Homo sapiens: one gene and its partner. The protein of the gene in region 2 interacts with the protein of the main gene of each other region in a biochemical or structural test. Each region holds a gene or a part of one and is shown on either strand. Other genes may lie near its edges.

Region 1 (7,285 bases), on a different chromosome or scaffold from region 2:
CAGGAAGACGTCTCCCAGGGAGTCCAGGCTGCTCTCCAGGGGGGCCTGACTCCGAGCAGGGATGGGAGTGAAGTAGAGACTCTCCAGGGATTCTACCTTGGGGGGCAGGCGCTGGGAGATAGGTGAGGCTGGTTCTCCAGGGACGCTGGTGCCGTCTGGCTGGGTACGAGGCAGCTTGCTATGGAAAGGAAACCTGCTGAGGTACAGTCCTTCACGCTAGAAGGCATTTTGTCCAGCCCTTTTTGAAAGTGACCATTTCCCATCCTTACTACAAGCAGATGAGGTCAAGCAGCCCATCTCTCTGATTTTTCAGAGGTACCAAGGAAAGCACTTGACCTGGGCCTTCCTTTCAGTCCACTCCCCTGGCTTCTCCTAATAGCTCCTCATAGTGGCAATGCCCAGACCCAGATGTCCCATCCCCACCAGATGCCCATGGCTGCTTCACAGCAAACACGTCCCAATCTAAGCCCACTTCTCTGTTCTTCCTCCTGCATCTCCCATTTCAGTGAATAGGAACGCCCCCCACTCAGGCCCCCAAGCCATGAACGTGGGCATAATCCAATGTCGTCCTGCTTGGCGAGCCCAATCACCAAGCTTCCTGAACAGCTCCTAACCACACCCCACTCCATGCTCATGTCCTTTCCCTGGTCTGCTTCATCTCCTCTCACCTAGACTCATCATGGCACTGACAGAGGAAGATGAGTGGTGACAAGCCAAGAACTCAGGCCAGGCTGCCCAGGGTCAAACCCCAGCTCTACCACTGGGGAACCTTGGGCAAGTGACTGCCCCTCTATGCCCCAGATTCATCTGTTAAAGGAGACAGAATAAACCTACCTCAGAGGGTTGTTGGGGGACAAATCAGGTATAATTGTCATGAGTGCTTTATGTCTAGCACAAAATAAGTAAATGTAAGTGTTTAATAAAAACATTTTTCCAGTCTTAACTTCTATACTAGCTATTAGAATAATCTTTTTAAGATGCAAATTAACCATGTACTCTTCAGTTTCAAATTCTTCCAAGGTTCCTTTTTTTTTCTCCTAAACCTTTCAATTACAGCCACCAAGGTTTCCTCAATGCCTTTAGGATCAAGTCTTAATAGTCGGTCTCCAATGGGCCTTCCTGGCCTCACATCTCAGCTTAGTCAGGCTCTTTCACAGCCTCTGTTCACACTGCTCTTCTCGTCAACCTGGCACACACACCTATGGATGCTTTCAAGACTCAGCAGGAGCGATAGCTTCCACGAAGCCTTTCTTGACCACTTGCTTTTTATTCCAACTGTGCCCTAAATAGATATCTGGTATAATACCCGTTTTTCGTTATTCTTCTCTAAGAATAAATTTAGATCACATCTTATTTATCTCACTAGGATACAGCCTGATAAACAGCAGGCACTCCATAAACAGACATAGGGAGGAAGGCTGCCTCCTGACCTGGTGATACTGAGTGGGGTCCCCTCCTCGCAGCTCAGATCCAGGCTGTCAATACTCAAGTCCAGCTGGGGCTTAGCCTGGGGCTCACGGCTCTTTAAAGCATCAGTTGCCACCTGGAATTTGCCCAGGTCTCGAAGCTGCTGGTCTGCATGGGCAACCTGAGAAGGAGAGGGCCAGGGGGAGAGTGAAGAAAAGCCTAAGGCAGCAGTGGCCTAGGAGGAGAGGGCACAGGGGTCCAGTGGAATAGGAGTGAGGTGAGTCTGCCAGCCAAATTCTTACCTGTGCCTCCAGGCTGCGCACCTGGGCAGTAAGGTGGCGGCAGGTCTGTTCAGCCTCCTTGGTCTTCAGCCCAGCCTGCTGTAGCTCATGGCCCAGCCGTTCAGCTTCAGCTCGCAGCTCTTTGTTTTCCTTCTGCAGCTGCTCCAGGCTCCGCAGCTGCTCCTGCAGCTCTTGGTTCTGCTGCTTCTTGGCATCATAATGTGTTTTGGCTTTCTCCATCTGTGGGCAGAGAGGGTGGGTGGGTGGGGTAGAGGTTGAAGGGCAGGAGGAAGGTGGCATGGGCTGGGGCTGGGCTCCTTACCTGCAGCTTATAGTGCTCAGCTGCCTGCTCCTTCTGGCTCAACTGGGCTTGCAGTTCATTCAGCTGGGCCTGGAGGCGCTGGGCCTCCTGCTGGCTCTCGCCTCCCTGAGCCTGGACAGCCTGAGAAGAAAGGCCACTCAGGAAAGCTGGTCTGGCCGCTCTACCCAAGTCCGCTTATCTGCACCAGCCACTGGGGCTCCACAGGTGCTTCAGACTCCTGCACTTTCTTAGGAAGCGGAAGAAAACCACACCACCCCAAATACTCTCTGCCCGACTACAGTCTACTAAACCTGAAGCCCACATGCCCTTCAGTCCACATCCGTAGTGGCCTTTCCCTGACCAGCTCCTGCCCTATCTTTGCCTTCTTTGAGACCAGACACAAAGTGTCACACCCTCTTTGCATGCACAATCTCCCGTAGGAGGAAGGGAACCAATCCTCAGGGAACACCCAGGTGCAGAGCCTTACTCTAAGGCACTTGGCATGTGAGCTCTCTTAGGACAGGGGAACTTGTTTCTCCTCAAAGCCACTCTGAGAAGTCACTTCACCCTCTTTTCAGAGGAGGAAACTGAGTTCAGAGATTTAAGCAAATTGACCAGAGTAACAGTGACTAAATGGCAGAGTAAGATTTGGTCCACCTAACTCCAAAAGCCCATGGGGGCTTATTTATGATGCCCACACTGCCTCCTGTCCAGACCATAACTCCTTAAGAGCAGGGCCTGATTCTCTGTCCATCTGCAAGGCCAACAAGTGCTTTGCTGTAGATAGAAGCATCCCCCCTTTGCCTCTCCTAACATAGGACAGGCCCCACAAGGAGTAGAATAAACATTTGTTTATTGCAATCAAGACATGCTGTGGCACCATGGTATGAAGGTGAGCAGGAGAAATGAAGCTCTGAGCTCCCAACAACTCCTAGGAGCCACCAGGGCTTTAGTGAGTCCCAATGCCACTGGTGCCCAATTCCTTTGCCCCTGACTGAAGGCTGTGAAGCCTAGAACTGCAAAAAGCAAGTATTAAACCAAAGAAGGTGACACAGTTGAAAGCATTAAGAATGTTATTAAACTGCACTGTAATATTCAACACTGGTGACACTCTCGTTCTTTCCCTGCCCAGACTATCTAGACTTACATTGTCCAAAAGAACTTTATGCAATGGTGGAATGTTCTGTATCTGCGCTGTCCAATACAGCAGCCACTAACCACATGTAGCTACTGAACAGGGGCACAGTGTAGCTAGTGTGATTGAAGAACTGGATTTACTTTAATAAATTTCAATAACCACACGTGACTAGTAGCTGCTGAAGTGGACAGTGACAGTTGAGAGATGGGAACCACCCTGGTTGTCTCTCGAGAGCTCCCAGAAGACACATGCAGGGGCTTCTAAGCCACAGGCTTCCTAGGAGGGCTACCTGGAATGCAGGGTGCCCCTCTTCTGCCCCGACACCCCCCACGGCCCCAGAGCTTAGAGAATAGCTTCCCTCCCTTGTCCAGAGGCCAGACCCATTCCCCCAGCTGCCCCACCTTCAGCTTCTGCTGCTGCACCTTGCTGGCTTGGTCAGAGTCAGCCAGTTTCTTACTCAGTTCTTCCACCTGGGGAGGGAAGAGGAGGACAGAAGACTCAGGAGGACTTCCCCTGGATGTTCATCCTGGATGTCCACCCATCATGGGGTTTCCCAGACCAGGATCCCCAGTGTTCCTAGAATAAACTCAGGCCCTTTCTCTGGCCTCCAATTACGGAACAGCCTGCTGCCCAGGCTGCTTGGCAGGGCCTGAATGAGGCAACCTAACACATAGATGTTGCCAGGGCCAACTGTTCTTGCGTCTACCCTGAGCCTGCAGAGACAGAGGCCTGCCCAACCCCCGTCACCTCCAAAATCAGGAGAATTGACTCTGGGGAGCCGACACCTCACCACCACCTTGCTGCCGCCACACTCTGCAGCCGCAACCTTCCCAGGACCTAGTCTGTAATTCTAGTAGACATACTCAATGAATTCCCATGCCTCCCTCCCAGAAACTGCCAAAGCCCAAGCCCACAGATGCTCAGACCTCTTCCCAACATCCACAGGCCGTTAGGGCTGGTGCTAGCAGCATGGCTGCTGTGGTTAGCATTGGGGAACAGATTGCTGGAAGACAAGAGCAGGGGCAGCACATGTACTCCAAAGCCCACCCCACTCCTACAAAGAGGAAGAGCACAGGGAGTAGGGGAAAAGAGAGAACATAACAGCCCCATGCACCCTTGGCTGCTCCAAGCATTCTGGGAGTTCAAGCATGACCAGGCAGCACAGGGGAGAGGCAAGGGCTCCATTGCTAACTGTTTGCTATTCACTTTGATTGTCCCCCACTATCACAGGCTCCTTAGAGGAGGGCCCAATTTTTCAGCAGCCCTGGGGTGGCTGGGTAGGAGAGTGATGGAGAAAGGGTGCTCTATAGCCTCGATGTCTCAGAAACACCAGCTCTATAGCCTCGATGTCTCAGGCAACACAGAGATGATTCCCATGAGAAAGAGGCAGCCAGACCATGTGACCCCCACTCCCCCGCCCCCATCTGGTATAGACCCCTCCTGCTCCTTCACCCTCGGTCTTCCTGCTACAGACATCTCTATGCTGTGCTCGGGGTTAGAGCCCCAGAAAGTGATGGGCAAGTGTCCTAAGCCCACAATCCTCCCTAACCTGTGGGGGCTGCCTCGCATATCACCTTCAAGGCTTCCATAAAGCTGTACTCTGGGAAAAAGGGACACCATGTTAAACAAGGCCGACACGGTAATTCTGCTGTTCCTCTTAGTCGGGTATCCTTAACTAGACACAGTACTTGGGAAGTTCTCGAATCCCAAGGATTGTGTCTGTCATTGGTTCAGGGTGGGAAAGATGAAGCCAGTGCTACCCCTTGTCCCTGATAGGCAAATGAGAGAAGGTGCAGAAGGGTGGAGAGGCCGACCTGGGATGGGTGGGATGAGGCCTGAGAGAGCCCAGCACACCACACTCCTGGGCAGCCTGGGCCTGGATTCCATGGCTTGACCCTGCCCCCTTCACAAACAGTTCACAACAGGAGCTGGCGGAGGCAAGCTGCAGCCGGGCTCATGCACCAAGACTGGTCACCGTTTAAGCAGCCAGCATTTAGCGAGGACCTCAGGCATTACCTGCTTAGTTTGCTCTCTCTGAAATACCTCTAGCTGCTCCACCTGTACATGGGGGAGGAGCAACAGAGACAGAGTGAGATGAGGCCAAAGAAGCACCAGCCCTGCTGCCAGGCTGACCTCACTGAGGCTCTGATACTTTCCCCTAAGGAGCTAGATTGACAGTAAGTTTAAAAATGCCAGTTAGGCTGATTCTAATCCCCAGTGGCTCCTGAGGCATCCAGTGCAGGTGTGCCTCTGAACAGGCTGGTGGTCATCACAACTTGACTCTCTAGTGACAGAGCCTTCAGGGGAGGGGAGGCCACTGACATTTTCTTTAGGATGACAGGGGCAACAGACTTGAACTCCACCAGCCACCTCTCCTTTTCTGCCACCCAGTGAATGAGGAAAGGCAAGACACTCCAGTGTAGGAGCTAGAGGCCCTGGACACAGAGGATCGATGTCCCCGCGCTCTCAGCTCCTGATCTTTGGGAGGGTGGTTGGGCTGAGTACCTTACCTGGGCAGTGAGTTTCTGCCTCTCTTCCTGGAACCGCTGCCTCTCCTCCAGGACCTTGACCTTGGCACCCTCATACTTGGCAGTCATCACCTCCAGCTCCCGGGCAGTGCTCTGTGCTTCTCGCTGCACCTCAGCCAGACGGGTCTCAGCATCAGCACGTACGGCTGCCAACTCTTGGACATACTTCTCCCGGGCCTGGTCCAACTCCACTTCCAGAAACTGCCGGCCAAGGTTGGCCCGCTCACCCAGCCCCCGGTTCTCCTCTGCCAGCAGGCCATGCGCCTTCTTCAGCATGCTCAGCTGCTCTGCATAGCTGGCCTTCTCTGCCCGCAGCTGCTGAGCTGTTCGCTCCTGCTCTGCCACCTTCTGCCGCAGAGGAATCAGCTCCCCAAGCTCCCGCTGGGCCCGCAGCAGCTCTGCCCGCAGTCCCCCAGCGGCCTGCTTGCTCTGCTCCAGCTCCTCACGGTGGCGTTTCTCGGCAGCGGCCTGCTCGGCCTGCAGCTGCTGGCAGAGGTGCTTAGCTGGCAGCAGCTCACTCACCAGGGCCTGTGTGCTGGTGTGCTCGAGCTGCAGGGTGGAGAGGGCCTGCTCTTTCTGGAAGAACTTCTCCTGCCACGCCTTCAATTCTTGGCCCAGCTCCTCCGCACGCTCAGCCTGTGAGGTCAGCTCCTGCCGCAGGTTCTCTGAAGCCACCCGCTGTTTCTCAGCCTCCTCCCGGAGGCTCTGCACCTCCTCCCGCAGAGCAGAGCTGCGTTCTGCAGCTCTGGCACTGTTGCTGGCTGTCTCTGCCTGCAGCAGGCGCAGCCTCTCCTCCAGCTTCTGGCTCTTCTCTGACTCGGCCATCACCAGCCGCTTCAACTCCTTGCTCTCCCCCTCCTTCTCCAGGACCTGGCGATTCAGGATGGACACCTCCTCCTCCAAGCTGCTGATGAGGCTATTTTTCCTCTCAGCCTCTTGCCGGCCCCGGGCCACCTGGGCCTTCCACTCATCTTCAGCCTTGCTGTGGTCTTGTACCTTGGTGCGGAAGGCAGCCAACTCCCGTTGGGCCGAGGCTAAGGCACTCTGACTGTGCCCTAGCTCCTGGGCCTTCTCCTCTAACTGGCCCTGCAGAGTCTCCAGAGCACTGTCCCGCTCAGCCCGGGAGGCCCGCTCAGCCTCGAGGCTGCGTTCCAGGCTGTCAGCCTGCTCCTGCTGCTTCTGGCATTGCTGTTCCAGCTTGCTCACCTCTGCCCGCAGTGCCTCCAGCTTGGGGCCTGTTGGCTCTGTCCTGCCAGCAGCCTCAGATTGGGCTCCTGAGCCAGATGCGTGCTCCTTTTCTTTCTTAGCCAGCTGTTCCTTCAGTTGCTTCACGGTTTGCCGAAGTTCCTCCAGCTCTTTTATCTGGGCTGCCTCCAGACCACGAAGCTTGGCCAACTCCTGGTCCTTGCCTTCCTTTTCCGTCAGGGCATGAGCCAGTGCCTCTTGCAGGGTAGCGAACTCCACACGCTGCTCGTTGAGGGCGTTCTGCAGCCGCATCTCAAGCTCTGCTCTGGCCGCCTTCTCCAGGGCAAGGTCAGCCTGGGCACGGCCCCGCTCCTGGGTCAGCCGCGCCACCTCCCTTTCCTGCTGCCCACGCTCCTCCTGCTGCTGCCCCTGGCTCTCCATCAGC
Region 2 (4,684 bases):
ATTTCTGATGCTTATGTAGCAGTGACATTGGTGATTCTGTCTTTATCTTTTCTCTTTTCTAGCTCAAAAGCTAACTGTTTAGTACTTAGGAACGTATTTCTACATGTGTTTAAGTGCAAGAAACAGTCAAAAAAGATAAGTGGATATGTAAATAAAGTCTTCGTACAATAAGTTACTTCTTGTTCATCCACGCCAATAAGGAACTGGGATGTTTTGACACAATATCTAATAACTCAGAGTTAAACTTGATTTACTGATTTTTAAAGAATGAGAAAATAAATAAGTTTTAACATTAAAATGGCAATAAAATGATTCTGAAAGCTGTTTGGAATCCTAAGAGCACATGAAGGTTATCATTTATAATATTCATTACCAGAAAAAAAGTTTATTAATGGAAATAAATTACATTTTGAGTTTATTTGGGTAACTATGTCTTTTTCTCTATATTTAGCTCAGTAAATGTTGAAGTTTTTTGAGATCAAGATCCCTTCAATTCCAACATATGCTTAGTTTCCTGTAATAACTTTGAAACAAGTTTAATTTTAGCTTTTCTTTACAAATTTATGACTCATTACAAAGTGAAATTTTTATTTTTGATGAAAACAGATGCAAAGCAATAAAGTGACATAGGGCCTAGAGAAAATGGAGACTAGAATCCTAAACATTGTTCTCTCTGTAGGTTTTCAGGCCCTGATAGCATCAGGGGTTTGTTTTTTTAATAACATAAACTAGGCAAAATGGCAGCTGTGTTCAACAAATGATGCATATTTACTAAACAAAGCAAATGGAAATACCAGCTCTGAAGGAACAAGAACAGGTTCCATGACTGAAGGTGTCATATAACTGCCAAATCCAATTTGATTGGTAATTGTATCCATTTCCCTTCATCATCCCCCACATTTCTTTTCATAATTACTAACCTAAAAAAAGACTTTCTATTTTCTCCATTGATTTTTTTTTCCCCCAGCCTAGAATCAAACAGAAGTACTAATGAGTAATGAAATAACCTAAGGCAGACAACAGGGTAGAAAACAATGAAGTTGATTAATCAATCTGTCCTGAATAATCAAGAGGCTTTAATATTATCTGTGATAAATCTAAATGGTAGGAACTTTTTTCATTAAAGCAAGACTTAATTTTACCTAACCAAAAGAGTGTACATTCTAATTGACTTTGGGAGCAGTGTCTCTTGGAAAAGACGTTAATTACCACTCTGCACTGTCCTTTGTGATTACCTATCATTTGCCAAAACTTCCAACCAAGTTCAAATATAAAATGAAACAATTGCCACCTTAAAACCCTTTTCTCTTTCAGGGCCATTGCACCATCATGGGTTTTTTAAAAAGTCTTCTCCACTTACCTTTGATTGTGGACTTCTGCAAGACTCTGTGGCTTTCATTTATTCCTATGCTCACATGAGACTTAGTTCTATCTGTTGGTTTCACTTATCCCTTGTTCTGATGCCCAAATCTATATCCCTAGGTCTAATGCTTCACCCAGGCTGTAAGCCTTCATTCTCTCCTTTTTTTGAGGTCCCAGACTCCAAACCTTATCATCCTGTCTTATACTTACTTCTTAACCACCACACTCTGATTATTCTCCTTAGTGGTGCCTCTCAAATTTCTCTCCCACCTGATTTCTGTGGTGACCACTCAAGTCTGGGTCCTGGCCATCTGGCAGGAATGCCTGACATTTGTCATCTTCCTCATCCAGCTGGACTCCTGCACTGGTCTCCTGACTGTTGTTCCTGCCTCTACTCCTTGCCGGCTTCAGCTTATTCATCACACTGAAGCCACAGCAGTGTTTTCAAAACGTAAATCACACCATGACAAACCCTTCCTCAAAACCAAAGAAGAAACGATCCCAACCTCCTTTCCTGGGCTTATCATGCCCTGCATGACTGGCCAACCCCAAGTTCTTTGACCAGTCTTCTATCTCTCTGTGGCTCTTGCACTCTGCCCTGGACCATTGTAGTAGATTGCCAACTGGTCTTTTCGTCCAAATGTTTTTTCTTAATTCATTTTTTTTTTTTTTTGGTCAATTAGATCAAGCTGGTACTTCTCAGTCTATTAAAGAATAGACCTAATATTTTGTACCTTTATTTACTACTCACTATACCAATGCTCAACTTTAGTAATGTCCCTTTCTTCACCGTCCTATTCCTTCCATTCGTTTCTGCCTCCTCCCCCAACATACATCTTACTGTCATAATACTGTGTACTTCTTCACCTCCATGCCTCTTTCCTCATTGTGTTTTTCCACCTGAAGCACCATTTCCATTCGTTTTAGCACAAAGAAAATAGACTTTGACTTTCCCTTTCCCTGAGTATAGCTTTAAAACCTACCTTGGTTTCTGTCTTTAAATTCTTACATATGAATTGTCTCTGTTTTATGCTAATAAATTCTTTTGCAGTGAACTCTTATTTGCCAGTTGCTTCTAGCGTACTTGTCAATTCTCCAGGTATTTTAAGGCCCTCGAGAGTGGAATAGTGTCTCATGCTTGTCTTCTGGTAAACATACTATTTAATGTAAGACTAGGCAGACAGTAACTGTTGATTACTTGATTGAAAACTTGATGAATGTTACTTAACATTTTTTTCAAGCCTGTGTTTTTGGAATATTTAAGCCTTCTGTTTTTTTTTTTTTTTTCTCTTCTAGAAAGTCATTTTTTAAACAACACTCAACTTTGTGAACCCCTGAAGATTTTTTGACCGTTCCAAGTCTTAATGCCACACCACTATTCCAGCGAATTTATGCTACAACTGGTAACAATGACCAGAAGCCTGAAGAATTAAAATGCCAACACCAAACCTTTCCTTACCAGCTCTGGTCTATATTGCTCCCATGCATTTAATATATTATTTTGTTTTATAACCACTTCTAAATATTCTCAGTTCTTTCTTTTTGTTGTTGTTAATTAAGGGGTTTTGGTTTTGTTTTCTGTTTACTTTGTGTGCAACTACCTGCTTTTAATGACTCACTTTGATCAAATGACAGTGAACAAAGCCAGCCCAAGCTGGTAAGGTGCTGTTCACTTGAACAGGTGCTGTTGCGCAGAAAGGAAACTCTGTGACTAATTTAGATAGTGGCTTTCCTTCTTCTGGATTCTTTTCATTGAATTCTCACAGTAAATATTTACGGAGTTTTCAAATTGCAGCAAATATACTGTATGAGAAAATATTAATACAGATTAAAAGCCTTTCTTACATCTTGAAAATTTTCTAATATTTGAGAATTTCACAGGGATGTTTTTTATATTGGACCCTTTTGACTTTCCAGTCCTGTGACTTTCTACTTTTAGTAGAGAGTCAGAATCTCTGGACTGGAGAATAATGAAGAAGTTCACTGACTGTGCACTGTGCTTAGAGACCCTGCCGCACCACAGTGCCAATGCTTGTCAGACACATGCCCTTCGGCAGCATTCCAGAACAGGAGGGAAGAGAAAGAGAAAACTTTCTTCCCTTCTACTAAAAGATTCAGGCAGCTTAAAACCTTAGTGCTTTCTTTCTTAACATACCCACATTTCAATTCTTTCCATTATTTGAACACTTGGGTAGAACTCTTGCTTTGTATTAAACCTCTTTGTCTACACATGTAAAACTTACCTTTTGTTATTGAGCAGGCCTATCTCTTTCAGATAGTTTTATGATTCACACAGGTTTGAGGATGCTGGGGAGAGGGGGAGGGGGCTGTGGTGGTGTTCTGTTGGTTACAAGAAAGTTATACCATTTAAAGCTGGCACCAGAGACCCGATAGGGACTTATTAACTATATTGAACATTTTTTCCTTTGCCTTTGACCCTATGTATAGTTACGATGCCAGATTAGATTTATAGCAGCCTCAAGTTGTATTAAATGATATTTTGCTTCCTGTAATACTATTATAAAATAAAGTTTGTTTATTCTCTAAACTTGTCACTTCTCTTTTTCTAAAGGGTTAAAAAAACAAACTTGAGTGATATTTTTCATCAGAAGTCTTAGTATTTTGTGAAAAGTAGCATTTCAAAATCTGTTTTCAGCTCTTCTGTAATTTGATGATGCTGCCAACATCACTATTTGAAACGGTGAAAGCGACGTTGAAAGTTTGTAAATCTAATGTTGAGAGTGCCAGATTCCTTCTGCCTGGTTACATAATCCATTCCAGCTTTTACGAATTCTCCGAGGGATATTTTTGCTTGTTTTCTTTGTGCATTTTTCATTTTGTTTTCAGGAAATATTTTAGCTGTACCATCTGAATCTTGCTCCTCTGCTTCATGTCCTTCTTTACTTTGTGTCCACTGGCCCTCTGTATATCAGGCAAACTAGGCCACTGAGGGGCTGCATCCCAGTCTGATTGGGATGCTTTCTTGTGAAACTTTTGTTGGGGCACACCAGGTTATGGTGTTATTATAGAGCAAATAACCAACAGGGTACATTTCTTGTAAAGTGTTATATAGAATTTTTTTCTCTAGTCATTTAAAGTAAGTACATTAAATACAATTTGCATAACTGTCGTCTTTGAGATCTGTTTCCACTAAATTATCTCTCGCCTTGTGAAAGGCCTTTCTCACTTTCTCTATAATTATTACAAAAACAACAACTCCCTGGAGAATCCGATTCAGCAAGCCAAGCCTTAGAAATATTGTGGAACCAAATGTGATTTTGCAAATGTATGCCTCATCAGAAAGTTTGTATAACACTCACAT

What was found.
Region 1: the proteins of EPB41L2 (region 2) and NUMA1 form a complex in vitro, tested with the Homo sapiens proteins (one study listed by BioGRID).

What each region holds. Positions count from the first base shown.
Region 1 is NC_000011.10:72,007,258-72,014,542, forward strand, and holds part of NUMA1 (nuclear mitotic apparatus protein 1), read right to left. Parts: coding exon 5,638-7,285; intron 5,186-5,637; coding exon 5,144-5,185; intron 3,598-5,143; coding exon 3,529-3,597; intron 2,131-3,528; coding exon 2,011-2,130; intron 1,929-2,010; coding exon 1,710-1,928; intron 1,589-1,709; coding exon 1,431-1,588; intron 944-1,430; exon of another isoform or gene 889-943; coding exon of another isoform or gene 835-888; exon of another isoform or gene 179-834; coding exon 1-178. UniProt on the Homo sapiens protein: Microtubule (MT)-binding protein that plays a role in the formation and maintenance of the spindle poles and the alignement and the segregation of chromosomes during mitotic cell division.
Region 2 is NC_000006.12:130,838,573-130,843,256, reverse strand, and holds the end of EPB41L2 (band 4.1-like protein 2), read left to right. Parts: intron 1-2,658; 3' UTR 2,659-3,910; downstream 3,911-4,684. UniProt on the Homo sapiens protein: Required for dynein-dynactin complex and NUMA1 recruitment at the mitotic cell cortex during anaphase.